4 separate regions of the Homo sapiens genome follow, and all the other regions are linked to region 4. The links come from fine-mapping of genetic effects on gene expression. A gene starts in region 4. Each other region holds a variant in brackets. All regions are shown on one strand. Distances are from middle to middle.

Region 1 (8,634 bases), 23 kb after region 4:
CTTCCCTAAAGTAGAATATCTCCCGGCCACGTCTCTCAGTCAGATTCTACCCCTCCTTTAAAGCCCCGTTTACTTACCAATTCTCTTTTGGGAAGTGTTTCCTAACTACTCCACATCATGATACACTCCTTTCTCTAAATTTCTTTCTTTCTTTTTCTTTTTTTAAATTTCTTTGTGACAGAGTCTCGCTCTGTCCCCCAGGCTGGAGTGTGAGATTAAATTTATGTTAGGCTAACATGAGCTTTTACTTATTTATTTATTGTAAGACAGAGTCTCACACTTTCACCCAGGCTGCAGTGCAGTGGCGCAGTCTCGGCTCACTGCAAGCTCTGCCTCCCAGGTTCCTGCCATTCTCCTGCATCAGCCTCCCAAGTAGCTGGGACTACAGGCGCACGCCACCACGCCTGGCTATTTTTTTGTATTTTTAGCAGAGACGGGGTTTCACCTTGTTAGCCAGGATGGTCTCGATCTCCTGACCTCATGATCTGCCCGCCTCGGCCTCCCAAAGTGCTGGGATTACAGGCGTGAGCCACTGCACCCGGCCCTCCTTTCTCTAAATTTCTAATGCATTCAGTGCAGATCATCTGATACTAAAAAATAATATTATCTGTGACATCTGGGTGTGGAAATGTTGAATTGTATTGTTATTGATCTGCATGTCTTGGGGGGTCCTCTCTCCCAGCTCTCCTTGCCTTTCCCACATTGAGTACTGTTCTGGGGATGCTTAATAAACATGGAGAAATACTGAATGAATTTGAAGCCATTATATATAATTTTTCTGATCAGAGCATTTGGGTAACTATGTAATACATGGTAGTTTCTCTTTCAATTTAGGAGTAACAGAAAGGTGAGCCATTGCTCAGGTAGCTTAATACTAGAAAGCATGTTATTTTAAAACGTATAATAATCCTTTATCTGAATAAAAGGATTTATTATACAATTGATAATGAAGTTCTTAAACTAGCTCACTTTCCTCCCCTGTCACCATAGATAAGGGATTTGAGAAAAGTTGCAGAATACACACAATTACTAATTGAACTCATCGATGCCAACCCTATCCTAATCTAACTTTCCCTATATTGGCCAAGACAGCCTAAATCTTTGGGTTGGAGGCCAGGTTTACATTTTATCTAAAAAGTGGCATAGTTACAGTTTTTAATAATAGAGAAACTATTTTTGTGTGTTCGATATCATACCAGATATACATCCCAGCAGACATGGATTGTTTAAATATGTGAGCGCGTGGAAAGGGAGGATTGGCCTCCCTGACCCCCAACACTGTGAAATGCTTGTTCCTAGTAAATTATAAGTTGCAATAAGTCAGTTAACACCGTAGAATCACACCATTGTCCTAATAGTAAAATAGCTGTGAGAAAAGACTTGTGATAAGATTGTAACATAGGAAAAATAATGCCTTTCCAAAAATCAACAGTGCACAAGCTCACAAAGCATGCCAGAAACAAAGCAGAGACAAGAAGTCATTCAATTGTTCAACATGTGCTGCTGAGCATCTACTGTGTACCAAACCCTGTTGAGAACATGGGCATTAGGGACGTGGAGTTATATAAAAGATATATAGGCCAGGCACGGTGGCTTACGCATATAATCCCAGCACTTTGGGAGGCCGAGGTGGGTGGATCACGAGGTCAGGAGATCGAGACCATCCTGGCAAACACGGTGAAACCCCATCTCTACTAGAAATACAAAAAAAAAAAATTTAGCTGGGTGTGGTGGTGGGTGCCTGTAGTCCCAATTACTTGGGAGGCTGAGGCAGAATGGCGTGAACCCGGGAGGCGGAGCTTGCAGTGAGCTGAGATTGTGCCACTGCACTCCAGCCTGGGGGACAGAGCAAGATTCTGCTTCAAGAAAAAAAAAAAAAAAAATATATATATATATATATATATATATAGAGAGAGAGAGAGAGAGAGAGAGACAGAGAGAGAGAGAGAGAGAGAGACCTTGCTCACAAAAAGGTCACATGCCATCTTAAGGGAGAGACAATCAAATAAACAGATCACACTCCGTGGGATGACAGGTGCTACAATAGTGATTTGTGTCTCCACTGTGGCCAGGGGCTGATACCAAAGGAGAAATGCAGGACAAAGTGAGGATCTTATTTCCTGGGCGGCATGCCCAGTCCAGCACTCACAGACACCCTTCTTCCTATTCCAGAGTCCTCCTCACACACATGAGAAGAGGCTCTAGCTTCCTTTGTGGTCACTACCTCTAGTCTTCAATCACCAAGAAAAAGTCAGGAGTTGAAAGGCCAAACCGTGTACCATTATAAGCAAAGCTGCAAACTGACAAGTCAGTCCAAGGCTTACAAAGCAGTGTTTGTACGGTGCTTTCATAGGCTTGGTTGGGGGTGATAAGTACAAATTTCCCACGCAAATATATGTAAAGCTGGTGTTTAGTAAGCTTGTAATAAACGGGAGTGTTTATAACTGCTAAACATAATGATAACACTGGAACTCTTTACAAGAAAGCAAAACTAAAAGTGTGTGAAGAAACTGCCCGGCCACGTGCTGGGCTGTCCCCATCATCAGGCCCGGGAACGTAAACTCCTGCACCTTAGCTCCCTCGTGATCGACAGTCATCCAGAAAGCATATCACCTAAGCCACATCTCCCCCTTTTCCCAAAGCCCTGTCAAAGCTCGTCACTTTGAGTCAAGGAAAGCACTTGCCCTGGGAAGTCCTTCCTGTGAAGCCACCCTTATCCCTGCCATGCCTGAGCCCCAGACCCTCAACCCACCTCAGCCTCCGTCCAGTTACAAATCCCAGGCCAGTCCATCGCCTGGACTCTGGCTTCCCCACCCAGTTTCTCCTCTTCTGCTCTGCCTTGTCACCTCCTTTCCTCCTTGCTCTCCTGCTGCATCGCTCGGGAAGAAAGCCTGCTCCCCGAGAGGCTGGGCAGCAGAGGTACGACCATGCTCTCCTTCTACCTGAGAAAACCCAGGCCCAGGGAAGCCTCGCCCCTTGTCCAGGGTCACATTTCTTGTAAGTATTACATACTAAATATGTAATACATGGGACATGCAGGGACTTGAAGCCATTTCATTCTACTGTGAATAGTAGAATATTATGTTTCAGGGTCTAGACCCGAAGTCATCAGCTCCAAGAGGAGACTCTAAGATTTCTCATGGTGACTAGAAGCCTGTTAGAACACCTCCTAGAGACACACAATTGCATCCAGACTTAGAGGCATGTGGGAAAAGTAAATAAGAAAGGGAATGAGGAAAGTAACACAAGATATCATTTATATGTTCTGCTTCAAATTGTCTTTTCTGAGGGGTTTTTAGGACACAATACATCACACTTCCCTGTCCCTTGTTGTATTCAATCTTTCCAAAAGCTATGGCAGTAATGAAGGGTCTGGAAATGTCCTTCCACCTGCCATGTGAAGCTTCCAGCTGAGCTACAAGGAAAACCTAGACAGACAATCTTGAGAACCACGTGGGTGCACCATCACCTCCAGAGTCTCTTGGCCCTTTCTCTCCGTGATCTCGTCCACTCCATGAGTCCTTCTGATGTCATGCTAGAACTCCCGTAAGATTGTGTGCTTGGTCCTTAGAGCCTCCGTATGTTTTTCTTTCATTCCATAGGAGCACTATTTCAATGGGTATGGCCTCACACCCTCCTCCTGTCTCCATTTCCTTTAATCACATCTTAAGCCCCTGCAATTGGGCATCTGCCCAAACTCCTCTTCTGTACCTGCTCCCTCAATAGCCAGTGACCTTCTTCCCAAATCTGGTGATATTTCCAAGCCTCCCCTCTTCCCAGGCCTCCCTGAAGCAGGTGGCCCAGCTGATGTCTCCTTCCTTCAGGAAATTGTCTACATCTGGTCCTCTCTTGCATGCTCAGTTGTATTCCCTTCTTTAGGGAAGAAAGTAGGCTATGAACTAGCAAAGCAATGCCCTATTTCTGCCTTTGCTGCTTCCTGCTCCACCCTGACACATACTCTCACTCTCTCTCACTCTCTCTCTCTCTCTCCCTCTCTCTCTCTCTCTCTCTCTCTCTCTTTCTCTCTCTCACTGCTCCCTAAGTCCCTGAGTGTCGGTGTCCTGCAAGTCTCACTCCTTGGCCTGCGCTCTCCTCATTCTCAATAGGCTCATCCAGTCTCATGATTTTAGCCTTCAGCCCTGATGGCAACTCCCAGTCTTTGCTCCTAACTGTGACTCTCAGGTGTACTCTGTCTCATGGTTTGTTTATTTATTTATTTATTTATTTATTTATTTTTGAGACAAGGTCTTACTCTGCCCCCAGGCTGGAGTACAGTGGCTCAATCATAGCTCACTACAGTTTGGATCTCCCAGGGTCAGGCGATCCTCCCATCTCAGCCTCCCAAGTAGCTGGTACCACAGGCATGTGCCACCATACCTGGCTAATTTTTTTAATATTTTGTAGAGATGGAGTCTCAAGATGTTGCCCAGGATGGTCTCGAATTCCTAAGCTCAAGCTATCCTCCCACCTCCGCCTCCCAGAATGCTGGGATTATAGGTGTGAGCCACTGCACCTGGCCCTGTCTCATGGTTTAAAGCATTCCTCCACTTGATGTCTTTCGGATTCAGTTACAAGGAGGGATAAATACACTCCTTACCAACCAAAAGCTCCATGAGCCTTTGGACCTGGCCCTTTGAGTTCTATCCTGCCACACCCCATTTTTGGCTTGTTGAGGAGACCAGCTATTGCTATCGGCTTCTGTCAATCGACTTACCAGTCACTCTGTGTCTCGCTTTTATACCATTACCATGGATGAGGTAGCTCTCTTCCTGACAAAGACCACCCTGTCCATGTGCGCCCCAGATCCCACCACTATCCTAGCATTCTCCCCTCTCTTCTGAATCATCAGCTCTCCTCTCTATACGGGATGAATCCCATGAGCCTTCAGACCTGCTCCCATCTTACACATGCACGCACGCACACACACACAGGACACCGCTCTTAACCCCACTTCCTCCCGTTTCTCTCCTTCTCTACACAGCAAAACTCCTCTAAATAGTTGTTCTTGCTCACCATGTCAGACCTCTCTTCTCCCACATCCTCTGTTGGAGTCATTCTAATTAGGACTTCACAGCACCCAGGCCCTCCTACTCTCTCTCCGATGCACAAACCACCAGCGCCAAAACTGTTCTTATCAAGGTCACCAATCATCTCTTCACCATGACATCCTATGGTCATTTCTAAGTCCTCATCATCCTGGACACCTCAGGTAACACATGGCACAGTTGATCTCTCCATTCTTCTGGAATACATTTTCCTCACTTGGCCTCTGAGAAGACTTCCCCCCCAGGTTTTCCTCCAGCTTTCCTGGATACTCCTTTCCAGTTTCCTTGCTGATTCCATCTCAGGTCCCCACCTTGTAATGTTAGAATGCCCAGAGCCCAGTACTCCGATCTCTTCTTTTTTCTAATTCTACTCTCTTCTTTGGTGATCTCATTCGGTCTATGAGTTTTAAACATAATCAATATGGTTTTGATGCCCATGTTTATAATTACACATGCACATGCCCAATTGCCTATTCACAATCTCTATTTGAATGTTTAATCGGTATCCGAATGTATCAAAAAACAGAACTCCTGGTCTGGATGCCAAACCTGCTCCTTCCACAGCCTTTCCCAGCTCGGTTAATGGCCATGGGTCTGGTTGCTCAAGCTTAAACCCTTAGAGCTTCCTCTCACATGTGCTCTCTCTCTTTTGATGCCTCTGCAAATCCTGTTCACTTTACCTTCAAATTATGTGCAGAATAGAACCATGTTCTGCTGTTTCCAAGGCTACTCCCTAGCCCAGCCACTATGTGACAGCCCCCTAACTGCTCTCCCGCTTCTGCCCTAGCTGCCTACATACTATTCTCAACAGAATTCTCAGTGTTATCCTGTTCAACTATAAGCTTGATCATGTCACTTCCCTGCCTCCCAGGATAATAAGAGCAAAAATCAGTATTCAACACGATGTCCTGCAAGTCCCTCCACAGTATGGGCGCTTGTCACCTGTCAGACTCCATGTCTAATGGCTGTCTCTTTTGCATACTCTGCTCCAGCCATCCTGGCCTCTGCTCGCCCTAAAACATGCCGGGCACAGTCCACCTCGGGGTCTATGCACTTGTTCTTCCCTTCACCTGGAATGCTTTTCTTCAAAAAATCCCCATGGCTTGCTTTCTTACTTCCTTCAGGCCTGAATTGAAATTTCACTTTCCCTGTGAAGAGGCCTTGATTACCTTCTTTAAATACCCCCCTCTCCCAGCCTCAAAGTTTCATAACCATCAGTTACCCTGCTTGATTTTTCCCACAGTCTTATTACCAGTTGACCAAAGATATTTACTTACTTGGTTTTTTCACTTGTCTATCTCTCCTTACTGAAATGTAAGTTCCATGATGGCAGGGATTTTTGTCTGTCTGGTTCAATTCTGAATTCTCATTGCCTAAACTGTGTC[C/T]GACATGTAGTGTGTGCATAATAAATACATATTCACAGAGTGACTGAATGAATGGATGGATCTCTCCCTTCAAAATGATATTCAGATTCCCTCTATAGTCTTCATTCTAACTACCAGCCCCCATTCTGGACTTACCCCTTGAGGTCTGTGTTTCTGTGATGTTCTATGCACTGGGTATCCCTCTAACACCAGAACCAAGATGAAAAAACAGATTTCCTGATCCTCAGCCTAGGTTCTGTCCACTCTATGATCTACGACGTGCATATTTTCAATGGTCTGTTAGTGGTGTCTAACCACGAAGGCAGGCTTAGCCAGACATTCTGATCGTGCCCAAGAGTCCTATTTAGAAGGTCATATGAACAGGCTCTCTTGCCCATACATACAGGCTTTAAAAAGTTGAATGATGTTCTTGTTAGACTCTGTGGTTTAAGAAACACAGTGCAAAAGGGAGTCCATTATTGGGAATGGAGGATCCTGGGACAAGCTGAGTGAAACAAGCACACTCTTTTTCGGAACCTCTTAAGATTCTGGGAGGCCCTTTCCAGGGGAATAATAAGGCCGAATTGAGTGCAAGAGACATATCTTTGATTTTCATAACCTTTGCTCCCTTCTTTTCCATATGGCAGAAGGCTTTCTCTCAGAAACCAGGAAAAACAATGGAGTATCAGCATAGCCTAAGGCAGTGCAAACTCAAACATCTAACAGGACCAAGCGGGGAATATAAATGAGGGGGAAGGTGGGGATTGGGGCAACCTGGAGAGGGCAGATCGCCACTACTCCACTTGGCCAATGGTTTCCATGGGGGAAATGTAGGGCCAGAGGTTCTCAAAAGTAGCTAGGATTCTAGAAGTGAACGTAAAATCTCCTAAGTTATAAATGTCGGCAATAAATCTAAACATTTTTTTAAATGCCATAGGGTCCAAAAAACACATCTTTGGGTGGAATGGTTTTGTGAGCTGCTTACCTATACCCGTAATGTAGGAAAAAGCACATGAGCAGTCCAATCACACTGCCTGAGTTTGACCCTTGGTTCTACCCACTGGTTTACAAAGTTACTCTAAGTCACTTAACTTAAGCTTCATTTTTCTCCATCTCTAAATCAGGACAGTGCTTCCAGGACTGACATGAAGATTAAATGAAAGAACGTAGTTGCTACTCAATATTAATTGTCCTTGTTTTTTGGATCTCTGCTCCCTCCCTTTTTTCTCATTGCACAATGAACTAGAAAAAACAGTTCCTCCACATTCTTATTTAAAGCAAACTAAGCAACGCTTTTTATCATTTGTCAGATTTTTTTTTACCATGATGAGCCTAAATACACTGTACTGGTTTCTAATCAGACCTCATTTGCAGCTGTGATTTTTGTGGTGGTTGTTGTTGTTGTACTATTTTGTTTTGTTTTGTTGTTTTGTTTTCAAAGAATGAGAGGACAGAAGAAGCATTAAAGCAACATTCTTTCCAAAATTAAATTCTGGCAATACAGTCTCCAGTGATCCTGACTAGGAAGCAAAGGGAAGACCCCGAGCCAGCAGGGGAAGCCCTCCAGCACTCTCAGGTTTTCAAAGAGCCTTTACAAAAGCACTAAGCAGGGCACATCACCGGAGAAGAAAAGCAAAGAGTGTCACAGGCTTGTAGCCATAGTGTTAGCAAGGCTGGGGCTCAGAATGAGCTGAGACTTGCAAAAAATGCTCAGGAACAGCAAAAAGAGCTTTGTGCAAGTATATTCTGAGCAGGAAGAATAGGGAAGGGCCAGATCCTGTGCTTGGGGCAGATGGTGTAATGCTAGCAGATGACAGATACAAAGCAGAATTATGCAACTCCTACTTAGCTTCCATCATCTCTATCTCTCAGAATGATCTTCAAACTGGAAAGAACAATATAAACACTGCAAAGAAGCAATTGCAGCCCTAGTTATGAAGCTCTTTAGAAAATGAATACCTGGGCTCTCTAAATAAGCTTAGATCTCCAGGCCCTGACAAATTCCATCCCTGGGGACTGAAAGAATTTGTAGATTTAATCATAGAATGATTGTCAGTAATCTTTCAGGAATCTCAGGAGTGATGCCAGAAGATTAGTGATGGGCAACTGTCCGAGTTGTCAAAAGGGGAAATATGTAGGTTTGGGGAACTTTGCACTGTTGAGTTTAACTTTGATCCCCAGCAAACTGTAAGCTGCATTATTAAGGAGTTAGATTACAATCGCTT
Region 2 (8,634 bases), 37 kb after region 4:
GTGAAACCCCGTCTCTACTAAAAATACAAAAAATTGGCCGGGCGTTGTGGTGGGCACCTGTAGTCCCAGCTACTCGGGAGGCTGAGGCAGGAGAATGGTGTGAACCCGGGAGGTGGAGCTTGCAGTGAGCTGAGATTGCACTACTGCACTCCAGCCTGGGTGACAGAGCGAGACTCCACCTCAAAAAAAAAAAAAAAAAGATTATCCCTATCTTTAAATATTTAACAGTTATACACTTATTTGTATGAACAAATCTAAACTTTTTTGGTAATGTTATTCTCTTCTTGGTGGTCATACATATTCTGTATCTGTTAAAGTCTTCCCTCCTCTGTTTTATTACTATTTTCTTTAATTTTAACTTCACACCTCATTCCTTTTTTTTTTTTTTATGGAGTCTGGCTCTGTCACGCAGGCTGGAGTGCAGTGGCACAATCTCAGCTCACTGCAGCCTCCGCCTCCTGGCTTTAGGCAATTCTCTGCCTCAGCCTCCCAAGTAGCTGGGATTACAGGTGCCCGCCACCAAGCCTGCCTAATTTTTGTATTTTTAGTAGAAATGGGGTTTCACCATCTTGACCAGGCTGGTCTTGAACTCCTGACCTCGTGATCCACCCGCCTCGGCCTCCCAAAGTGCTAGGATTACAGGTGAGAGCCACAGCACCTGGCCCATCCCTCATTGCTGAATGAGAATTAGCTAGATAGAAATTTCCCTCAGCAGTTTGTAGGTATGGCTTCATTATCTTCTCGGGTTCAATTACCTTCTTGGTTTCTATTCTATTACACCTTAAATTTTTCATAGAAAAATGTAAGATGTAACTTCAGTCTAAGTGTTAATCTTTTTTAAGTAATCTATTTTTCCCCACTGGCAGCTTTTCCTTTTATTAATGATGCTCTGCAGTTTCATTGTGATGTGGACCTGCATCAAAGTGCACTTTTGATCTGAGTTCTCATATTTTTCTCTAACTCTGGAAAATTCTAAGCTACAATCTTTTCAAATAATGACTTCTCTCATTTCTTCCAGTCTCTTTTCCTTTCTCTGGTACTCAAATTAGAGATGTGTTGGAGTCTCTCAGTCTGTCCTGCAGGGCTCATAACTATTCTGCTCTTTTGAATTTTATATTTCTTTGTCTCTTTGTACTAGATCTGGGTAAATTTGTCAGTACTCTCAATTTACCAATTATCTCTTAAACTGTGCCTAGTCTAGAGATTATCGTAAATATTGGCTTTCTTATTTCCAGAATATATTTTTAAGTTCAAAAATTTTCAGTTGATTGCTTTCCCTGTCTACATGTGGTGGTTTGCCCCAAATTTGCCCCATCCCTTCATATATGCCCCTTTGCAATGTGACTTTGACACTCTGACTATCAATAAGTGGGGTATACCTCTGCAGCCTCAAATCTGGTCTTGTCTATGTGACTTGTTTTGAGCAGTGGCCATTGGCAAATATATAATTCAACAGAGGCTTGAGAAGTTCTTGTGCATTGGAGTTTGCCCTTTTTTGGCTGCAGGAAACCCTGCTATCACACGGAAGCAAGCCTAGGTTAGCCTCCTAAAGAATCACAAAAAGAAAGACCCTAGCTGTCTGAATGATCTGAGCTAAGTCCCCAGACGTGCAAGTGTGGCCATCCTAGACCACTGAGCTCCAGCCAAGCCAGCTTGCATCAGAAGAACTGTCCAGAAAACTCACAGAATCATAAGAAATAATGCAGGTTGGTTTTTTAAGTGACTAAGTTGTGGGGGTGGTTTGTGATGCAGCCGAAGGTAATTGATATACTGTGTTGTTCCATTTCTCCCTGTTTTGTTTCCCAATATTTGTTCACTTTTAAGGCATCTAATTCCTTTTCCACGTCTTTAGTCACCTTAAGTGTTACTGTTCAAGTCTTACTGTTCAATTTACCGTTTAAGTCCTTGACATACTGTTTCATAAAATTATTCTCAACTGGAGTGAACTATTGACTTTCTTGACTGTTTTTCTTAGCGCTTATTTTCTACATATATTTTGGAAAGTCTGCAGGCTTATTTTGAATGGAAGGCATTTTGTTTTGTTTCACTTGTTCTGCTTTTTCTTGTACCCAGTTGAGAAGTTTTGCAGATGCTTTCACCCAGCACGCTGTACTCTTGGTCCACAGCTGAGTCTCAAGATAGTTTTCTGGGGCTCCTGGCCCACAGTGATATTGAGAATATTACAGAGCCAGTCACAGAGCTGGCTTTGAATCAGCTGGCTTCATATCAGCTTTAAATTTCTAATCAGTTCCTGTTTAGAAGGCCGGGTCTTGGATCGCTGTAGTTCCACAGCTTCTGAGAACGCCTGGCTTTCAGCAGTTAGCCTGGTTCTATCGTTTCTTGAGTAGACACTTAGTTTCTATTATCCTATCCAAGCCACACTCCTTCCCATCGCTGCCTGGTTTGGGGTCCAGAGCCCTGCAAGCCCACGGCTTTACCCCCCTCATGCTTGCAGTCATCCATAAAGATGCTTTCTTCTTGGTTTCAAGTTTGGGTATTTTTATTATTATTATTATTATTATTTT[A/G]GACAGAGTATCACTCTGTCACCCAGGCTTGAGGGCAGTGGCGCGATCTCGGCTCACTGCAACCTCTGCTGCCCAGGTTCACGTGATTCTTCTGCCTCAGACTCCCGAGTAGCTGAGACTACAGGCACCCGCCACCACGTCCAGCTAATTTTTGTATTTTTAGTAGAGACGGGGTTTCACCGTGTTAGCCAGGATGGTCTCGATCTCCTGACCTCATGATCCCCCCGCCTCGGCCTCCCAAAGTGCTGGGACTGCAGGCGTGAGCCACTGCGCCCTGCTAAGTTTTGTATTTTTAGTAGAGACAGGGTTTCACCATACTGGTCAGGCTGGTCTTGAACTCCTGACTTCATGATCCACCCACCTTGGCCTCCCAAAGTGCTGGGACTATAGGCGTGAACCACCGCGCCCGGCCATGTTTGGGTATATTTTATTAGGTTTGTTTTTTCCTTGTCTATACTTTGTCTTTCATGGTCTTTTACTTAGAACACAGGGAATGTGAAGAAGTGTGAAATTAAGGGGAGCCCGTTTGACCGGAGGTCCATTTCATATAATTTTATCTAAAAATTAAATATAAGCTTAAGCTGGCATGCAAGATCTTTCACAATTCAGATCCGCTTCCCACTCCCACTGCTAGGCACCCCGCACTTCACTCACATCAAATTGCCTCCTGTTTCCTGAACACAGCACGTGCTTTTATTCTTTGGGGCACGTTCATATCCAGAACAGCCCTCCTGCCACACCTTTCATCTTCAAGACCTTCATGAAAACTCATTTCAACTGGGAAGTTGGCTCCAGATCCCACAGATTAAGTTACTTCTTCCTTCTCTGTGCAGCTGGTATTGTTACATACCTTTATGTAGTGCTCTCTGTATTCCTCTATATTCTATTTCTATATACTACTTAATGTCATCGAATTGTGAATTTTAGTACTTATAATCTCCTCCAGGTAGGCTGAGAGCTTCCTGAAGACAGACACTGTCTTTTCCATATTCATATTCTTGGAAGTTAGCAAAGGGCCTGGCACAAAGTATGCACTCAGTACACACGTACTGAGTAAATGAATGAATGATTCATATGATGTGCAAGATAAAGTAAGCATATAGTACATGTGGTTTATTGCCATATTGTTATGTCCATAACAATTGCTGTTTATCTAAGTGTCTGCTTTGGGCAACATGAATGTGCTATATTTATCCACTGCACTTAGAAATAAAGAGAAGGCAGCGGACAAATTTTTATCCTGAAGTTTGCCTTATATAACTACCATTAAGCTAACTCTGTGCAGAAGACAATTGACATACTCCAATACACCTTTTGTAAAAGTGTGGTTTTTACAACTCTTAAGGCAACATGAGACAGTCTCATTTCCTTCCTCAATTTCATGGCATTCTTCAAAAAAGAGTGGAGGAGGATGTTAGCACGAGTTGTTATCTTTCTTTTTTTTTTTTTTTTGAGACGGGAGTCTTGCTCTTTCGCCCAGGCTGGAGTGCAGTGGCGCAATCTTGGCTCACTGCAAGCTCCGTCTCCCGGGTTCACACCATTCTCCTGCCTCAGCCTCCCGAGTAGCTGGGACTACAGGAGCCCGCCACCACGCCCGGCTAATTTTTTTGTATTTTTAGTAGAGACGGGGTTTCACTGTGTTAGGCAGGATGGTCTCGAACTCCTGACCTCGTGATCCACCTGCCTCGGCCTCCCAAAGTGCTGGGATTACAGGCATGAGCCACCACACCCGGCCCGTTATCTTTCGAGCAAAGTAAAAATACGATGGAAAAAGCTCTAATATGTGTAAATGCTTTACAGTTATAACAACTCAGTTCTATCTTTCTATCAATTATAATTCTATCTCAGGAGAAGGGTTACGTTTTTTGTTCCTTTTTTTACAAAGAGGATGTAATTTTGGTACCAAATGGCATGCTGTGTGAGCAAAAATATTTGTCTAATTGTCCAACTTTTCTGGAATCCTTCAGGATACTATTTCTTCCTCAGAAACAGAATGAAGGCTCTGTGACATGGAAGAAACAAAAAGGTTTTCATTCTGGTGGGAGTTACTTGTGCTTTCATTTCCTCCAGCTCGATTGCATGGCTATGGCAAAAACAGAAATTCAACTGAGTAGAATTTCTGTTCTAAAAACATCTAAAATTCATCTCAAATCTGTATCTTTTCTGGGGAGAGAAACTAAATCCAGTCTAACAACTAATTAAACAAACAAACAAATACCCTAAAACCACAGTCTTCTCCTGGCGCCTGTCTACACCCACTCCTCCCCAGACCCCTTCCCCCATCTCCTTCCCCACTAGCCCAGTCCCACCTGGTCCAGGGATCAACGTGATGGGGCTCACTCTCTCCCACACAGGGAATGTGTTGGATAAAAGTTATATGTGGAAAATGTGGGTAAGAGAACTAGAAAATGAATATGAAGTTATCACTGTGTTTAACTTCCAACTTTGCTCTCTGATTCCAATAGTCGTCACAGTTTTCTGAAAACCTGAAATGTAACGTATGTGACGTTGCTTCTCCCTAGTGATTCAGCAAACAAAAGCCTGAAATTCTTCTCCAAATCTCCATTTTCCCCCACATTCCTAATTCAAGCTCAAAGCTTTATTTAATTTAACCACATTTAACACATAATTTTTAGTTATGTGCTCTGATTGATGCAGTATTTCTTATGGATATAGACTTTGAATCCATTGTATGACCTCGAAAAGAATTTAGAGTTTAGACAATTTAGAATTTGGAACCAATTTCAGTGTCTCCAGAAAAGATCCAAAGTTGATAGCTTGCCGCTTCTCCCCGTATGGTGAGCCATCTCACTGTGCTCAAGAGACTGCTACATCCTGGAGAAGGGGATAACACAGAGGGACACAGAGATTTTTTATTTACAGAAATAGTATCTGGAAGTGCCCTTTGGTTTACTATCTTGATCTTTTATGTTAAGCAACTACGAATGTTTGAAAGGGAGAACAAAAAAATCGCCACTAAGAGAAGGAAATATTACCTGAAGAAGGCCGGGCGCGGTGGCTCACGCCTGTAATCCCAGCACTTTGGGAGGCCAAGGCAGGCGGATCACGAGGTCAGGAGATTGAGACCGTCCTGGCTAACACGGTGAAACCCCGTCTCTACTAAAAATACAAAAAAAAAAAAAAAAAAAAAAAAAAAAATTAGCCGGGCGTGGTGGCAGGTGGCTGTAGTCCCAGCTACTCGGAGGCTGAGGCCGGGGAATGGCGTGAACCCGGGGAATGGCGTGAACCCGGGAGGCTGAGCTTGCAGTGAGCCGAGATCGCGCCACTGCACTCCAGCCTGGGCAACAGGGCGAGACTCCGTCTCAAAAAAAAAAAAAAAAAAAAAAAAAAAGAAATATTATCTGAAGAAAATGTTATCAATGACAACTCCTAGACACTAATTGTGGTACATTGCATTTCATTTCATTTCCAGTCACACTATGAGCATCTACGATGAGCTAGGTACTGTACCAAATTCTAGACCACCTTTGTTCAATAGAAATAGATGCCAGCCACCTATGTAACTTTAAAGTTTCTAGTGGACACATGAAAGCCATTAAAGAGAAATGGGCGAAATTAAATATTTGTATCATTTCGACATGTAATCAATACAAAAATGAATGAGATGTTTTATTTTTTTAATACTGCATCTTCAAAATCTGTTGTGTGTTTTTCACTCACAGCGCAGCTTAACTTGGACTCACCACCTATCAAGTGCTCGACAGCCACGTGTGCAGTGGTTCCTACGTGGAGCAGCATACATCCAGAGATGCAAATATTAATGAGGACAGTGCTAGTAACAGAGTTGCTGAGCAATCTATGTCCCCTTGTAAGAACCAGTGCCCCAGGGGAAGAAACAGAACTCCACAAGGTAGCAGTGTGGGTGTAGTACCCGCATGTGCCCATGTTATGGGAATGTAGATGGGGAGTGACCACCGCCAACAGAAGTGTGGCCATCTTGCCCGAGATGCCTGAGGACCTCCTATTTTTAGATGCTGCTGCCCAAGGCCTGTATTTCATGCTATGGCTTTTGTCATTTGAATTATCAGTAGCTGTCTCGGAGCTATTACGCTTCACTGGGCCCTGGAGGATATTGTCTTATACAGTCCACTGGGTTTTGGATATGCAGTCTGTGCCTTTCATTGCCTTCCTGGAAAATAATAACTAAACTCTTCCTCACCAGGCTTTTTGTCTTTTTTAACTTTCTCTTTGTCTAGTTTATTTTGGTATCTCTGTTACTATCATTTCTTCAATGTTTTTTTCCTGCTGATCTAACTCTTTTAGCTTGTTCAAGTTAAAAAAAAAAAAAAAAAAGGCCGGGCGCAGTGTCTCACGCCTGTAATCCCAGCACTTTGGGAGGCCGAGGCGGGCAGATCACAAGGTCAGGAGATTGAGACCATCCTGGCTAACATGGTGAAACCCCATCTCTACTAAAAATACAAAAAATTAGCCGGGCGTGGTGGCGGGTGCCTGTAGTCCCAGCTACTCGGGAGGCTGAGGCAGGAGAATGGCATGAACCCGGGAGGCAGAGCTTGCAGTGAGCCGAGACTGCACCACTGTACTCCAGCCTGGGCAACAGAGTGAGACTCCGTGTAAAAAAAAAAAAAAAAAAAAAAAGACCTTTGCCTGGGGCCTGGGGCCTGTTGAGGCATCTATGGGCATAGCTTATGCACACTGGTGACAAGAAATGTTAAACACAGAGCTAAAATATATTAAGTATTTAAAATTAGTGTACGTATATAATAAGTAAATCCTAAGATAATGATGTTGACGCAAGGGTGGGCAGAATTTGTGAGGGCAAAGCTTAAGAGTGGGAGAGTAAAGATGTGCAGGTCCCAGTCCCTTATGTCTTGCTGCGGGAACAGAAAGAGAGGCCATCATCAGAGGTACAGGATGCTCATCTTTCCATCTTGTCAGGACCATTTTGATCTCAAGGACAATTTGATATGCAGAATGCAAAAAGAATATAACTAAGATATTTTTGACAGCAGCAGAAAATGTCTTATGAACAAACCACTGAACGTCCATTTTCAGATATTATCAAGTAGTAAATCCCTTATCCTTTCCCCTTCCTTGACCCTGTTCTACTAGGTGGGAGTCAGCACAGGGTGGAGGGTGTCCTTGACATCTATACTAGGGCCACCGTACAAATAACCCCAACAACAAAATGACCACTCCAGTCCACATATGGTGTATCCCCCTTCCCACCACAGGTTAAATCCATACCATGTCTCCAGTCAGGATTGTGGCTTAACTTTTGACCTGGAGCCCACACAACTTTCACACATTATAGTTCTCTCAAGTTTAAGAAGACAACTGATTTGGTTTGGCTGTGTCCCCACTCAAATCTTATCTTGAATTGCAGTTTAGTTCCCACAATCCCTATGTGTCATGGGAAGGACCTAGTAAGAGGTAATTGAATCATGGGGGTGGGTTTTTCCCATGCTGTTCTTGCGAAAGTGAATAAGTCTCACAAGATCTGATGGTCTTATAAGGGGCAGTTCCCCTGCACATGCTCTCTTGCCTGCTGCCATGTAAGACATGCCTTTGCTCCTCCTTCACCTTCTGCCAGGATTGTAAGGCCTCCCCAGCCATGTGGAACTGTGAGTCCACTAACTTCTTTTTCTTTATAAATTACCCAGTCTCAGGTAGGTCTTCATAGCACTATGAAGATGGACTAACACAGCAATATTTTCAAAGTTAGGCTCCCAGCTGAGCACCCTTTCAGTAGTATTTGGGTTATTGGTCTTCAGCCATTGTTCTTATATTTCCTCTGCTCCTTTCCGTCTCTCTTCCCCTTTGACACCTGCTACCAGGCTGGGAGTTCCAGAAACCCCATGTGCAGAAGCTTGAGGGCCCAGGCAGGGGAGGAAACATGACAGTTAGGCAAAAATACCCCTGAGAGGTCAGGTGCTTTATTGGATGGGCACCGTGAACCTAATGCTCTGAAGGCTGGATGCCTGGGCTTCCTTCCCCATACCTAAGGCTGGATCTGAGGAGAACTGGCAAATAAGTGAGGTTTACTCTTCCCCTCTACTTTGAGCATCCTTATCTGCCCTGTGTCATCCTGTCACCCTCTAGCTAAACCTGCCAGCCTGCCCTCGTGGGG
Region 3 (4,656 bases), 30 kb after region 4:
ACTAGTGTTTGCCAGGTAGCATAAGGGGAATTGTAACAGGCAGAGCAAGGGTGATGAGGGTGCCATTGGCCCATCTGCCTCAGAGCATGAGGGCTTATTCCTGGTACCATGTTTCTTCTTCACATTCAACTTTGTGGTCTTTGTATTTTGTAAATCACGAAAGCAAAATATATTCATAGTAGAAAACTTAGAAGTACAGAAATGTATGAAGAAGAAAACGAAAATTAGCTCTCATCATTTGGAGATCACTACTGTTATCATTTTGGTATATGTCCTTCAAGTCTCTTCTGGAGACTTGTGTTCCATGAGGCACATGGAAGTACTAAAAATGTGGGTTAGGTAGTGTTTATATTCTACATTAAAAAACTAACATTATGTCCTGAATTATTTCCTCAACTTACATATTCTTTGAAACCCAGTTTTAATAGTTATACAACATACTATTGTGTAGATATGCCATAATTTGTTTGAATTGACTTGCTCTTGGACATTTAGGCTGTTTCCACTTAGATGTGGTGGCAGGAAGGTGGCACTAGATTTTAAAAGGGGATACTGACAAAGCAGTGATCAGTCCAGGGAGGATAACTGGACTAGTGAAGCATCTTAGAAACCACGACCTGAGAGGGGCAGTTCAGAAAACCGGGAACGTTTATTCCAGAGAAGGGCACACATAGACAACTCTGATAGCTGTCTTCAAACCCTTGAAAAGCTGTCAAATGAGAAAGGGAGTGAATTAGTTTTGTGTTGTTCCAGAGGGCTGAACTAAGACAAGTGGACAGAGGCTGAAGGGAGTCTGATTTCAGCTCTATTTCTAACAATGCCCACTGTCCACAGACAGGCTGAGCTGCTTTGTGAGGGAGTAACATCTCCATGACAGCAAGGTGCAAGCGGAGATAAGACAACCACCTGGGTCAGGAACTTGTAGAGAGGATTCCTACATGGAGTGGGAGACTGAAATAATAACCTCAAAGATGCCTTCCAATCAGAAGATTTGGTGATTCTTTCTGAGTTATCAAACTGCCTTCCTTTGACCTTGCTCACATGTAGAAATCCAAGTCAGGTAAGGAGCAAAGAAGTCAATGACATTAATCTCACTGCTAGAGTAAGCACTGTAGCTCAGAACTAGAACACACGTCTGTGTACTTGGCCTTGGCTCATATCTAGGTAGTTTTTTACAGTCAGCAAAGCACTTTGCAGATAGAACTTATAGTTTAATTCTTGTAACAGCTTTGGGAAGTAGATATTGACATCATCCCACTATTAAAGTTGAGAAAATTGAGGCCCAAAGTGCTGGAGTGACAAAACCCAGCCATCCACCTCTAGTTCCTTGCCACTTCCCAGGATGCAATGCTGCTGTTCTCTGTGTGAGTTCCTAGTGCACTCTTTGATGGGCTGTGAAGGTTCTTTGTCCTTTACACTCTGTATTTGGTGTCTCTTCGGCTACAATTTAAACACTTTAGGACAAGGGTTTAAGGGCATGTTATTTTTCTTTTGTATCCCATCCTCCCACCGCCCAGTGATCTTTCTAAAATGCACATCCGATCATGCCAGCCCCCTGTTTTGAGTTCCTCTTAGGCTTCTTGTTGCTTGGCACAGAGATGCCAACCCATTTGGGAGGGACTGCGGATCCAAGAGTGGTGCACATTTCAGAATCTTGGGAGGAAGTGAAGTACGACTTATAGCATATAGAAGCAATACAATAATTATTTGAAAAGAAAAATCAAAGCAATTTGTTCATGAATACGTTTGTTTTGCTTACCAGAGCTATATATAGGCAATACTATAATTCTCGACACTTTTAGGAGAGCACATTATTTTGAGGGTGCGTGAGACTTTCATTTTCATCAAAGAAGCCATGAATTTTGTTGTTGTTTGTGGAACCACAATCTCAAAAGTGAAAACATGCCATCTCTCATATCTCAGATTTCCATATATGTATGGGCTTGTGTCTGGACTCTCTTTCGTCTTCTGTTAGTTTGTGGCTTCTGTGCCACAGTCATGCCATCTAATTATCATGGCTTTATAAAATGTTTTGCTCTCTAGTCGGACAGCTGCCTCCACTTCTTTTCCTCCAAAATTGTTTTTGAACCTTTGTTCTGTTACATTAATTTTAATATGAGCATTTCCAGTTCCATAAAAAAAGTATTTTGATTTTGATTGTAATT[A/G]CACTTGATTAATATATTAAAATTGAAGGACAGCTGACAACCTAATGATATTGAGTCGTCCCATCCATTTATTTGGATGTGGCAGGACCTCTTGGTTGCCTACTCATCAGTACTAGCCCACTCCACTTCCTTTCTTATCTACAGAGAATGCTTCCCATATTAGAGACTGAAAATATGAGAGATTTTCCTATTCTTCCATAGGCATGGCCTCATGACTCAATCCTGGGGGACATGAGATAAAGGTTTATGGGAAAAGTTTGATAACAAAAAAATAGATGTGCAAAGAGATACTTCTTTTACTTCCTCTGGAATAGAGTCATGTGAAGAGGTCTTTACACATAGACTCTAACTATGACATCAATCCTGAAACTGGGAGAGGACAAACCTGAGATAAAAGCCTTGTTGGAGATGCTTCAGCAGAAAGATGGAAAGATCCTGAGTGTTTGATGACATCCTTGAGTTGCAGGATTAAGCAACCCTGAACCTGCCCATGCTGGGCTTCATGTAATGTGAAGTAATAAATATTACTTCAAGACACTTCCTGTTGGATATATGTTACTTGCATGTAAAAACACCTTAATTAATATACCATGTCTTGTTCTATTTCCTTCAATAAAATTTTATTATTTTCTTCACAGGCATCCTACACATTTTTGCAAATATGACATTTTTGAAGATTACATTTCTAATTGTCTATTACTGGTGATTAAGTAGGCTATTGATTTGTTTGTTGGTCTTATATCCAGCTTAGTGATCACTCATTAATTCTAATAGTTTATAAAGTGTCCTACGGACTATTATATCATCTGAAAATAAGAACAGCTTTCTTTCTGCTTTTAAATTCTTATATTATGTATTTTTCTTGCCTTATTACATTAACTTATACTTCAGATACAATATTGAAAAGGAGTAGATATGGTAAGCAGCTGTTTCCTCCTGACTCTGATAGGAATAATTATCAAGTTTCAGCTTTCAGGACCTTTCCATAGCACAACTCTAGGGGGCACCATTCATAGTACTTTGACATTATGAGTGGTTTTGTAATATATTTTTATAAATAGTCTCTGTTAAAGTGTTTGTGTATCAGTTAGGATTAGGCTTGGTTGCAGGCAACATAAAAAGACTGAATAGCAGTAGATTATACAAGATGGAAACTTATTTTTCATGCCCAAGATATCCAGAGGTATTCAGTTCAGGACACAATTAGTGTGCTGCAGTCTCAGAGATCCAGAATCCTATTACCATGTTGTTCCACCATCCTAATCGTTTCCCACCTTCAGGTGGGAAAACATACACTTTCCTCGAAAGATAAAGAAAGCACATTCAATTTATAATTTATCAAATTATGATTTTAAAAAACTCAATAAAGTAGGACTAGAAGGTGTGGCCAAGATTGCTAATTTCATCCCAGTATCTATTCTTCCTGTATCCTTGCAAAAGAAACCTTAATCTTTTATTCTGAATTTTCAAATTTATTTGCATAAATTTTTCCATTTTCTCTTATGGTTTGTTTAATCTCTATTCTAATGTGTTTTGTTTCTGTTCCCTTTTTTGTTCTTAATATTTTATTTATTTGTGTCATTTTCCTTGATTTGCCTCACTAGAAATTTTTCTTTCATTCAAAAACTCAAATTTTAACTATATGAACTTTTTGTAATTTTTTCTTAATTTATTGATTTTTACTTTACCTTTATTATTTCCTTTTTTCTACCCTTTGTGGCACCTTCTGGTTTGTTTGTTTATTTTCTCCCTTCTTGAATTGACTGCAAACTCATTTCCTTTTTATCTTTCTTTTATTTTACAGATAAATTTTAGGTTCTAATCACATCTTTTAATACTACCTTACTGCATCACACATTTTTTGTGATTATTTTATTTTCACTTCGTTTAGAATATTTTCAACTTTTCATTATTATTTCCTGTTGAATCTAAAAGTTAACTAGAAAGATATTTTTAAATTTCCAAACATGCAGTTTTTTTATTTTTTTTTAACTTCTTTAAAAAAAAACTCTCAGCCAGGCACTGTGGCACATGCCTGTAATCCCAGCTACTTGGGAGGCTGAGGCACAAGAATCACTTGAACCCAGGAGGCAGAGATTGCAGTGAACTGTAATCCTGCCTGGGTGACAGAGTGAGACTGTCTCAAAACAAAAACAGAAACAAAAAAACACCTCTCCTCTTTGCTTGCAGATGTCTAATTTAATTGCATATTGATACAAATATGCATAATATAAATTCTTTGAAAATTGCTAAAGTCTTCACAATATGGCCAATTTTGTAAATTTTCTAAGAAGAAAAATTTATAATTTTTATTGGGTACAGAGTTCTATATAAAACAGATAAATTTATAGATATTTTCTTCGAATATTCTTACAGAGTTTTTTTTGTTAGATTTCTCATTTGCTGTTAGAAGAATATTAAAAATCTACTATGTGTATAAAATGATCTGTTTTGGCCTTTTATATAACTTAAAACTATGTTGTTAGGTGCA
Region 4 (8,634 bases):
AGCTTGTAACTTTTAGAGTTTCTCATGGCTCAGTCCTAGCCCTTCTTGTTTTCTCTCAGAATCTTCAAAAGACGGTCCTCAGGGATTATGAGATATTTCACAGGCATTTTCAGGGGCAAAGTAATGAAATAAATTTGTCTACATACATTTTGAAAAGTTGAAATGTAAGATTAATAATTTGTACGAAAATCACTTTATTTTCTTTAAAGTTACCATTCACTATAATATCCCATTATATTCACTCTCTGTTGATACATTCATATCAGCCATAGTTAGCATTTACTTAAATATAGTACTATAAAACTCAAGTAAACTTTCAGATTATTTTTCACACAAAGCACAAAGTCCATTTGCTTTGTTAATAAGGACAAAGAAGAAACCAAGAGAAAAGACGCATTCCTCAGCTAAAACAGGTAAAAATTCTTGATACTGCTGAGAAGCTAGTCAATTCAAATTTAATGCCTGAGAAGAAACAAGCTATTGACCAAAATTCTTTATTAAATGATTCTACTGGATGTCATATATTATCATGCTATATTATCATGCAACACAATATAGAAGAGCAATTACTGTCATGTTGAGTGCTTTAGCATATATTTTGTTTTACAATTGGACAAACTACCTGTGGAGAAAATATAAATCAGTCCTTGACACATATACAGTATATAAGGTAAAAGTACTCAACAACTTTTTGTTCTACATATCAGTGAAAACTTATAGTACAGGGAAGACAGTTTTTATTTAGACAATGATACTTTTGTGAGCTATGACATAAGTTGAAAAAGGTGCCACACATTCAAAATTGACAGAGCATGAAGTATACAAATAGCAAAAACATACACTGTTATGTTACTAAAAGATTCTTTATATGAAACAGGAGTCAACAATATGCCTCCTGATTATAACTGAGTGTTGAAGGAAATAATGGAAATTAAACATCATCAAATATTGACTATTCAGAGTATGCGCTCTCAGATGTTGCAGAAGGAAATGGCAGCGTTTGCAAGATTATTCTTCCCACGCAAGTTTGCTGGCTGTCAAGGAAAAAAGGTGCTGACAAGTTTCTGAAATGAGGGATGAGATTTTAAAAAACAAAAAAATTCTTCATAATGCTGACAATACCAAAAAGTAATTCTATGTTTTCTAGAGGCCTGCTTAAGTGGAGTATAGCAGAGATATATCTAGAATTTTAAATAGCGTGAACCTACTACTTCAGGGCCAAAATACCCTGATTTTTAATGCTGAGAATAAAATACCATATTTTTCAAAGTCACCAAGCTATGTTGCAAATGGCTCAATTGCTAGGATGTGATTCCTTCCCAAAACCTGATGGTTTTCTTCACTTCTTAGAGTGAGACTGATTACACTATTGTGTGTATAAAGAACATGACTAAATGTTAAAACAAAACATGGGAAAATACTTTCCAGATACTGAAGAAGTCAAAAAATGACTTAAGAATCCATTTGTTACTATCTTCCAAACATTCAGGCTGGTTGAAACATTCACCCTAATATTACAGGCTTCTCAATAACGCAACTGAAAGAGCACAAGATATAATCTTCAGGGAGAAATCTTCCGATAATTTTTCAGTCTGTATTTGACCTTGATATTCCTAAACATCTGACAGCGCCAGCAAACACAAGTTGCAATTCCTGACAATCTATAATTGTGGCACAACATTTCCTAATTTAGTAGACATACAGAGTAATCAAAATGTGGTCTAACCTACATCTCAAACTATTATCAAATTAGATATAAGTACTTTGTAAGAAGCTGCAAAAAAAAAATCATCCTTCTCAATGATAATAAAAACATTAATTTCTAAAATACTGTTTTATTGGGGGCCAGGCACGGTGGTTCACGACTGTAATCCCACCACTTTGGGAGGCCTAGGCGGGTGGATCACTTGAGTCCAGGAGCTTAAGACCAGCCTGGCCAACACAGTGAAACCCTGTCTCTACTAAAATACAAAAATTAGCCAGGTGTAGTGGTGCACATGTGTAGTTCTAGCTACTCAGGAGGCTGAGGCACAAGAATCACTTGAACCCAGGAGGCAGAGGTTGCAGTTAGCCGAGATCATGCCACTGCACTCCAGCTTGGGTGACAGACTACCTATAGACACTGAGGCTCAAATTTCAATTTCCAGCCCAGCCTTCTTCTCTGAGCTCCAGACTTACCTCCCTAACCAACTGCCTTCCAAACTTTACTACCTGATGCTTCATAGGCACATTAAACATAGTGAGTCCAGAACCAAACTCCTGTTATCTTCCATATGGCTCAGTGAAAACATCTTATTCCTGGCTGCCCATGCCAGAAAGCTAAGTCATCATCTAAGATGCAGCTTGAATTGATCTCCTCTCTCCCCACTTAGTAGTCACCTTCATAGGTGACTTCATACTTTCCCCACATAGTCCAAGTCACCTTCGTCTCTACCCTGGACTACACTATAACCTCCTAATTAGTCTTCCTACAGCCCCTTATCCCCCTCAGTATTTTCTTTTGCTGCTAGAACAAATTACCACAAACGCAGTGGCTTAAAAACAACACTAATTTATTTTCTTACATTTCTGAAGAAATCTTACATGCATCTCAATGGGCTAAAATCAAGGTGAGTTTGATTCCCTTCTAAAGGTTGTATGAGAGAATCTATTTCCGTGGTTTTTCAAGCTTCTAGAAGCTACCCACATACCTTGGCTTGTGACCTCCTTCCTTCATCTCCAAAGTCAGCCATGTTGTATCTCTTTGACCATTCTTCCATAGTCACTCCATGTCTTTTGTCCCCATGTTCTACTTTTAAGGACCCTTGCGATTACTTTGGGGCCCCCCTGGATAATCCAAGGTAATCTCTTTATCTTAAGGTCAGCTGATTAGCTAATTACCTCCCTTTTGCCATGTAACAACATATTTACAGATTCTGGGTATTAATATGTGGATATCTTTAGGAGGCCATTATTACGTCTACCATATTTTCTAATACATAAACTCATTTTCCACACATCAGCCAGAGTAATCTTTTTAAAAACATAAATATGTTCATGACACTTCCTTCAATGTGTTACCACTCCTCTAAGGATAAAGTTCAAAATCCTAAACATGTGCCTCAAATCCATGCATGGCCTGGTTCCTACCTCCTGGGCTTGTCTTCTGGTGCACTGTGTCCCAGCCACATAGGCTTCTCTCTTTTTCTCAAGCACCAAGCTCCTTTCTTTCTCAGGATCTTTGCTCACACTATCTCTGCTGTCTGAACAGCTCTCCCCACCTTCCAGCCAACCTTTACCTGGCTAACGCTTGCTCAATCCTTCAGATCTCTATAAAAGTTACTTTCACAGGGTGGCCTTTCCTGATTGCCCAGTCTAGTATTAGCTCCCCCTACACTGTCATAGTACTCTTTTTCTTTCATATCTTTTTATCACAATTTAAATTAAATGTATTTGCATAATTATTTGTTTAATATCTGCCTGCCTGCACCAGACTGCAAACCCATAAAGGCTGGAGCCTAGTCTGTTCTGTTCACCACTGTAAACCCTGGGACTTCGCACTAACTAGCTTATAACAGGTGCTCAATAAATAAGTGAGTGACATTACATGTTATTATATGACCAGCAGGCAGGTAGAGTATATGCAGTGTGGATATGCTGGACAAAGGGATGATTCGTGGCCCCAGGCAGGATGGAGCACAATGGCATGAGATTTTATCACACTACACAGTACAGTATGCAACTTAAAAGTTATTAATTGTTCATTTCTGGAATTTTCCATTTCATATTTTCAGACCGCAGCTGACTTCTGGTAAGTGAAATTGTGGTAAGTGAAACCAGGAAAGCGAAACTAAAATAAACTAACAAATTACTAGAGAAACCCACACGTAGAATGTTGATTTTTAAAACCAAATTGCGCTTACTGATATCATTCATATGCTTATAGGAAGAAAAACTATTAGTAGTAATAAAATACAGTAGCAGTAAGACAAATATGTCTTATTTGGGTGGCAAAAGAAGAATGTGAGATGATCTGTGGAGGATTCCCCACTTTTAACAAAAGTCAGCCTGCTCTGCTGAAATTAGCAAAATCACACAGGTGATTTCAAAGAAAACCCATTGCTTACAAAGAAATGAGATAATGATATAACAAATCAAGTATATAAGACATTCATTAATGCCTTTATAATTCTCACAAACACACAAATAATCCAACAGCAAATTCTGATGTATGTGTGACGCAGGAGGGAAAATTCATAGTAGGAGCAAAGAATTATCTTTAGTCCTTGCTGGTACAACCACCATCATGAATTCAACAAATATTTATTGAGTGCCTACTATGTGTCAGGTTCTGTTCTCTAGTTGAAGATACTATAGGAAAAATAACAGAGAAAAACCCCTGTCCTTGTGGATCTTACAATATAGTGAAAGATTTAAAACCTTGAGTAAGACATATACTTGGGTGGCTAAAGGGTTTGTTATGGAAAAATTAAGAAGGACTGATAACAAAAAGGGAATAATAGCTACATAAAGATATAAATACAAAATGAAGGTTGTTGATGACAGATAGTGAAACTGAATATATAAGCAGAGAGCACATTCTCATTATTCTAAATTATTTTTGCTAAAATCAAATACAAGTAATTACTTTCCTCTAATGCAGCTTGAAGAGAGTATTATACGTATGAATCGAAAATACTAAGATGATGACTATTGTTATATGATGCACAAGAAGGAACCATAATGTGCAACTACCAAATCCAGACCAACAGACTAGTTTCTACTGGATAAAAACTTAACTTAAAAACATAGGGAAATGTACTGATAAACTTTCTAACTTATCTGGAAATATATTCCAGAAATGAGAGGGGAAGAATACTGATTATAGGAAATTATTGCAAATATGGAAATTAGGGGTTATTAAAGTAAATTTATGCAGTTATCTCAGCATAGGAGTAGTTTCTTATGTTTCATACACAATTATGCATTGCATAAAAGCTTTCAGTCAACCATGGATCGCATATACAAGTGGTCCCAAAGATTGTTAACACTTTATTTTACTGTATCTTTTCTATGTTTAGATACATAAATACTTTCCATTGTGTTACGAATGCCTACAGTATTCAGTACAATACTATGCTGTACAGATTTCTAGGTTAAGAGCAATAGGCTATTCCATATAGCCTTAGGTGTGTAGCAGGCTTATGAAAGTACACTCTATGACGTTGGCACAATGAAAAAAATCACCCAGCAATGAACTTCTCAGAACATATCCCCATTGTTAGGAGGCGCACGACTGTATTTAGTCCAACAACTTGCTGAAATGTGATTCTACCATTTTTCCAGTCAACTCCTAAGTTTTAAATACCATACATCTGCCACCTTACCAGGCAGTTTCAACCATAACAACAGAAGAATACTCTTGGCAAATAGATCCCACTCTCTGAGGGTTGTGTTGGGGCTCAGAAAATACTACCCCGAAGTATGACACTTTGGCATGCTGAATACTTTGAACTAAAAGAGATTGGAAGGCCTCAGAAGCAGCCTCGGAAGCAGTCTCTCCCTCTGATCTCCTGCCCTTCTGTCTCCTGCCCATCTTTCGTCCCAGAAGTGAGTCACAGAAACCAGAATTCTTCCCCAAGGTGAGTGATAGAAACTAGGATCCCTCTCCTACAAAGCAAGCCATAAAAACTGGAACTATTAAGCTTTCCCTGCCATTGTCTATAGGAACTGGCCATAAAGAAATTCTCTAATCTACCTTGCCTGATAGTAGGTCGCTAAGACCCTCATTCCAGAAGGGACCTTCCTCCTCCGTAGGAGGAAGAAATGATACACAGAGAGGCCAAGAAGAATCTGAACAAACAGACCTTGCTGGGCTTCCTTCCTCAGTTTATTAACATTAGAGTATATCCTTTGTCCAGTCACATTTTTACACAGTTGTCTATTCTTCATGGGTCCTACGCATAAAAATAGAGATCTCCCTGGTCTCTGAAGTGCCTGGTGGTGTAAAACTTTGATTAGATTTGCTCTGCTTTTACCTTGTTAACCTATCTTCTGTTTTAAGGAGTGGTGGCTGTGATCCTTACAATGGGTGGTGAGGAAAGGTACTAAAGTTTTCGGCCCCTACGTTGCACTTTAAATAAATAAATGTATAAAAGCAAAGTAGACAAAGACACATGAAGTCATAATGAAAATACCAGAGTCAGCCAAGGAAGAAGGCAGACTTGCAGTTGAAATGCTCCAGATCACTTTGTCCACCGAACGAAAACATCTAAGAACATACAGTCCATACTCCAAGTTTTAAACGACTGTCCACCAAGAAGGGAAAAGGAGAACTGATGGCTCCTCTTAGGCCCATTCAAGACAAGGGGGTCCCAATTCCCTTGCTTTAGACTGGTGGGACTGGCAGGTAAACCTGAGGCAAATGACTGACTACAGGTTCCAAGGCCAGTTACTCCAATTAGAAAGCAAAACACAAAGTTTCAAAAAACAGTGAAGGCAGTCGGGAGGCTGAGGCACGACAATCGCTTTAACCCGGGAGACGGAGGTTGCGGTGGGCCGAGATCACGCCACTGCACTCCAGCCTGGACAACAGTGCGAGACTCCGTCTCAAAAACAACAACAACAACAAATGGTGAAGGGATGAGGCTGAAACATCACGGGAAGTAAAATAAATAATTGTAACAAGAAAACAATAAAGCATTGGAGAATCCACCCAGGCACTTCCACTGCTTAAAAAGGTACAGACTACAGAAGCCAAAAGGCCCGGGAACTCCGGTCCCGGAACTCAACACCCAGACTGAAGCGAGCGCGGGGAAGCAGTTCCGGTGACCCCCTCCCGCCCCTCTCTCATCAACCCCGCCCCCTGGGCCCGCCCCGTCCCGCCCGGCTACTCACTGGATTCGCTTCCCACATAACGGTGACAAAATCGAGCGGAGAGAGCCTGTGGGAAGGGGCTAGCCGCGGGGCCTGGGTGTTGGATTTTTTTTTTTCCCGCGGGTCCCCGGGAGCGAAGGGACGGAGATGCAACCTTTACGAAGGCCTTCCTCCTCCCCCTCCCTGTCACAAGCCAGCGTTTACAGACCACCCAACCTCCCGACTTCCGCCCGACGTTGGCCAGTCAGATCTGTCTCCGCCCCACTCCTACAAGCTCGCCCCGCCCCTGCACGCTTATCCATACGCGCGCGGGCGGTCGTCCTGGGCGGGGCTTGCGAGTCTGTGTCTGACGAAGGAGTTTAAAGGGTTTCTGGTCCAACTGTATCACCCAGTGATCTTAAAGCCACGGCTGGCTGTATTTCTTTCCTATGAAACAAATTTTTATTGATCACCGTGTAACGACCAAGAGTCACACAGGCCTGGCAATGGCATTTGGGAGAAACTTCATAATCTTTCAATATCTTCATCCTCAAAATGGAGATGGTAGTAATATCTCCCTATGAGTGAGATTATTGAAAGCATTTAGCACAGTATTTGGCACACAGAGTTCAATAAGTGACGGTTATTTGCTCACAAGGGAACCTTTACATACTATCCCTGCCCTCAAGATTTTATAATCTAGAAAAGAAAGCAAAAAGTAGTTTAGAAAAGTTAAAAAGTGCAATATGATTTATAGGTAATATGGTGAATAGAGAGTGCTATGCGAGCATATTTACCTAGAGTAGAGTGTCAGGAAAGCTCCCTCAAGATGTTTAAAACCATGAGGATGTATTCCTACTGATGTAAAGAGAGCTAACAGAGTGAAATAATCTTCCATGCAACAAAGGATCTACCCCATAGGAAATGAAAATTAAACAGCTCATTATAGATCCTTCTGGACTTTTCTATGCCTCTACACATTGAAAAAAATGTAATCAAAGAATACCTATAGATTTAGAACCTGATTTTTTTTTCACTTTAAAGATTATGTGGCTATCCTTCCATTCCATTAAGTTTAAATCTGTTTCATCATTTTATTTATTTATTTAGGCAGAACCTCGCTCTGTCGCCCAGGCTGGAGCGCAGTGGCGCCATTTTGGCTCACTGCAACCTCCGCCTCCCGAGTTCAAGCGATTCCCGTGCCTCAGGCTCCTGAGTAGCTGGGATTACAGATGTGCGCCACCACGTCCCGCGAATTTTTGTATTTTTAGTAGAGACAGGTTTTCGCCATGTTGGCCAGGCCAGTCTCGAACTCCTGACCCCAGGTGATCCACCTGCCTTGGCCTCCCAAAGTGCTGGGATTACAGGTGTGAGCCATCTTGCACCCGGCCATATTTTAAAGTAGACTCATGGCATTCCATAACTTATGCGTATACTACGTACACACAAATAGACACACACATTTGAAATAATCTACTGAATAGACGTTTGAGTGGTTTTCTATTTTTCACTATCCCAAAAAAATCCTTCAACAGGCATTTCTTCACATTTGTCCATTTACTTCTTGGAATTAATTCCTGGAAATAAAATAGTTTACTAAGAGATTATTTTTGCCAAATGGTTGACCAGTTGCCCCCATGTCATTTAGTGAATATTCTTTCCTCACTACTTTGAAGTGCCACTGTTAATTACAACCTAAATTTGCATATACATATACATAGGTATACATACACGTATATATCTGTTTCTGAACATTCTCCTCTATTAATTATCTGCTTATTCCTAAAATATGCCACAGTT

Evidence for each region.
Region 1: its variant is fine-mapped to the expression of PARP11-AS1 in T cells (TOPMed, PIP above 0.99).
Region 2: its variant is fine-mapped to the expression of PARP11-AS1 in whole blood (TOPMed, PIP above 0.99).
Region 3: its variant is fine-mapped to the expression of PARP11-AS1 in whole blood (INTERVAL, PIP above 0.99).

Annotation. Positions count from the first base shown.
Region 1 is chr12:3,888,868-3,897,501 of GRCh38, forward strand. The region is part of intron 1 of PARP11-AS1 (PARP11 antisense RNA 1); the gene reads left to right. Among named protein-coding and RNA genes, the nearest start is that of PARP11, 20 kb to the left of the region's middle. The variant C/T (reference allele first, on the strand shown) is at 6,431.
Region 2 is chr12:3,903,676-3,912,309 of GRCh38, forward strand. PARP11-AS1 (PARP11 antisense RNA 1) reads left to right here. Exons shown (of 2, transcript NR_183432.1): 2 at 6,209-6,707. Among named protein-coding and RNA genes, the nearest start is that of PARP11, 35 kb to the left of the region's middle. The variant A/G (reference allele first, on the strand shown) is at 2,526.
Region 3 is chr12:3,898,128-3,902,783 of GRCh38, forward strand. The region is part of intron 1 of PARP11-AS1 (PARP11 antisense RNA 1); the gene reads left to right. Among named protein-coding and RNA genes, the nearest start is that of PARP11, 27 kb to the left of the region's middle. The variant A/G (reference allele first, on the strand shown) is at 2,166.
Region 4 is chr12:3,866,336-3,874,969 of GRCh38, forward strand. It overlaps PARP11-AS1 (PARP11 antisense RNA 1), which reads left to right and starts at 3,837. Exons shown (of 2, transcript NR_183432.1): 1 at 3,837-5,621. It overlaps PARP11 (poly(ADP-ribose) polymerase family member 11), which reads right to left and starts at 7,064. Exons shown (of 8, transcript NM_020367.6): 1 at 6,877-7,064. The coding sequence starts at 6,894. RefSeq lists a silencer at 6,732-6,841 and enhancers at 7,513-8,033, 8,034-8,553.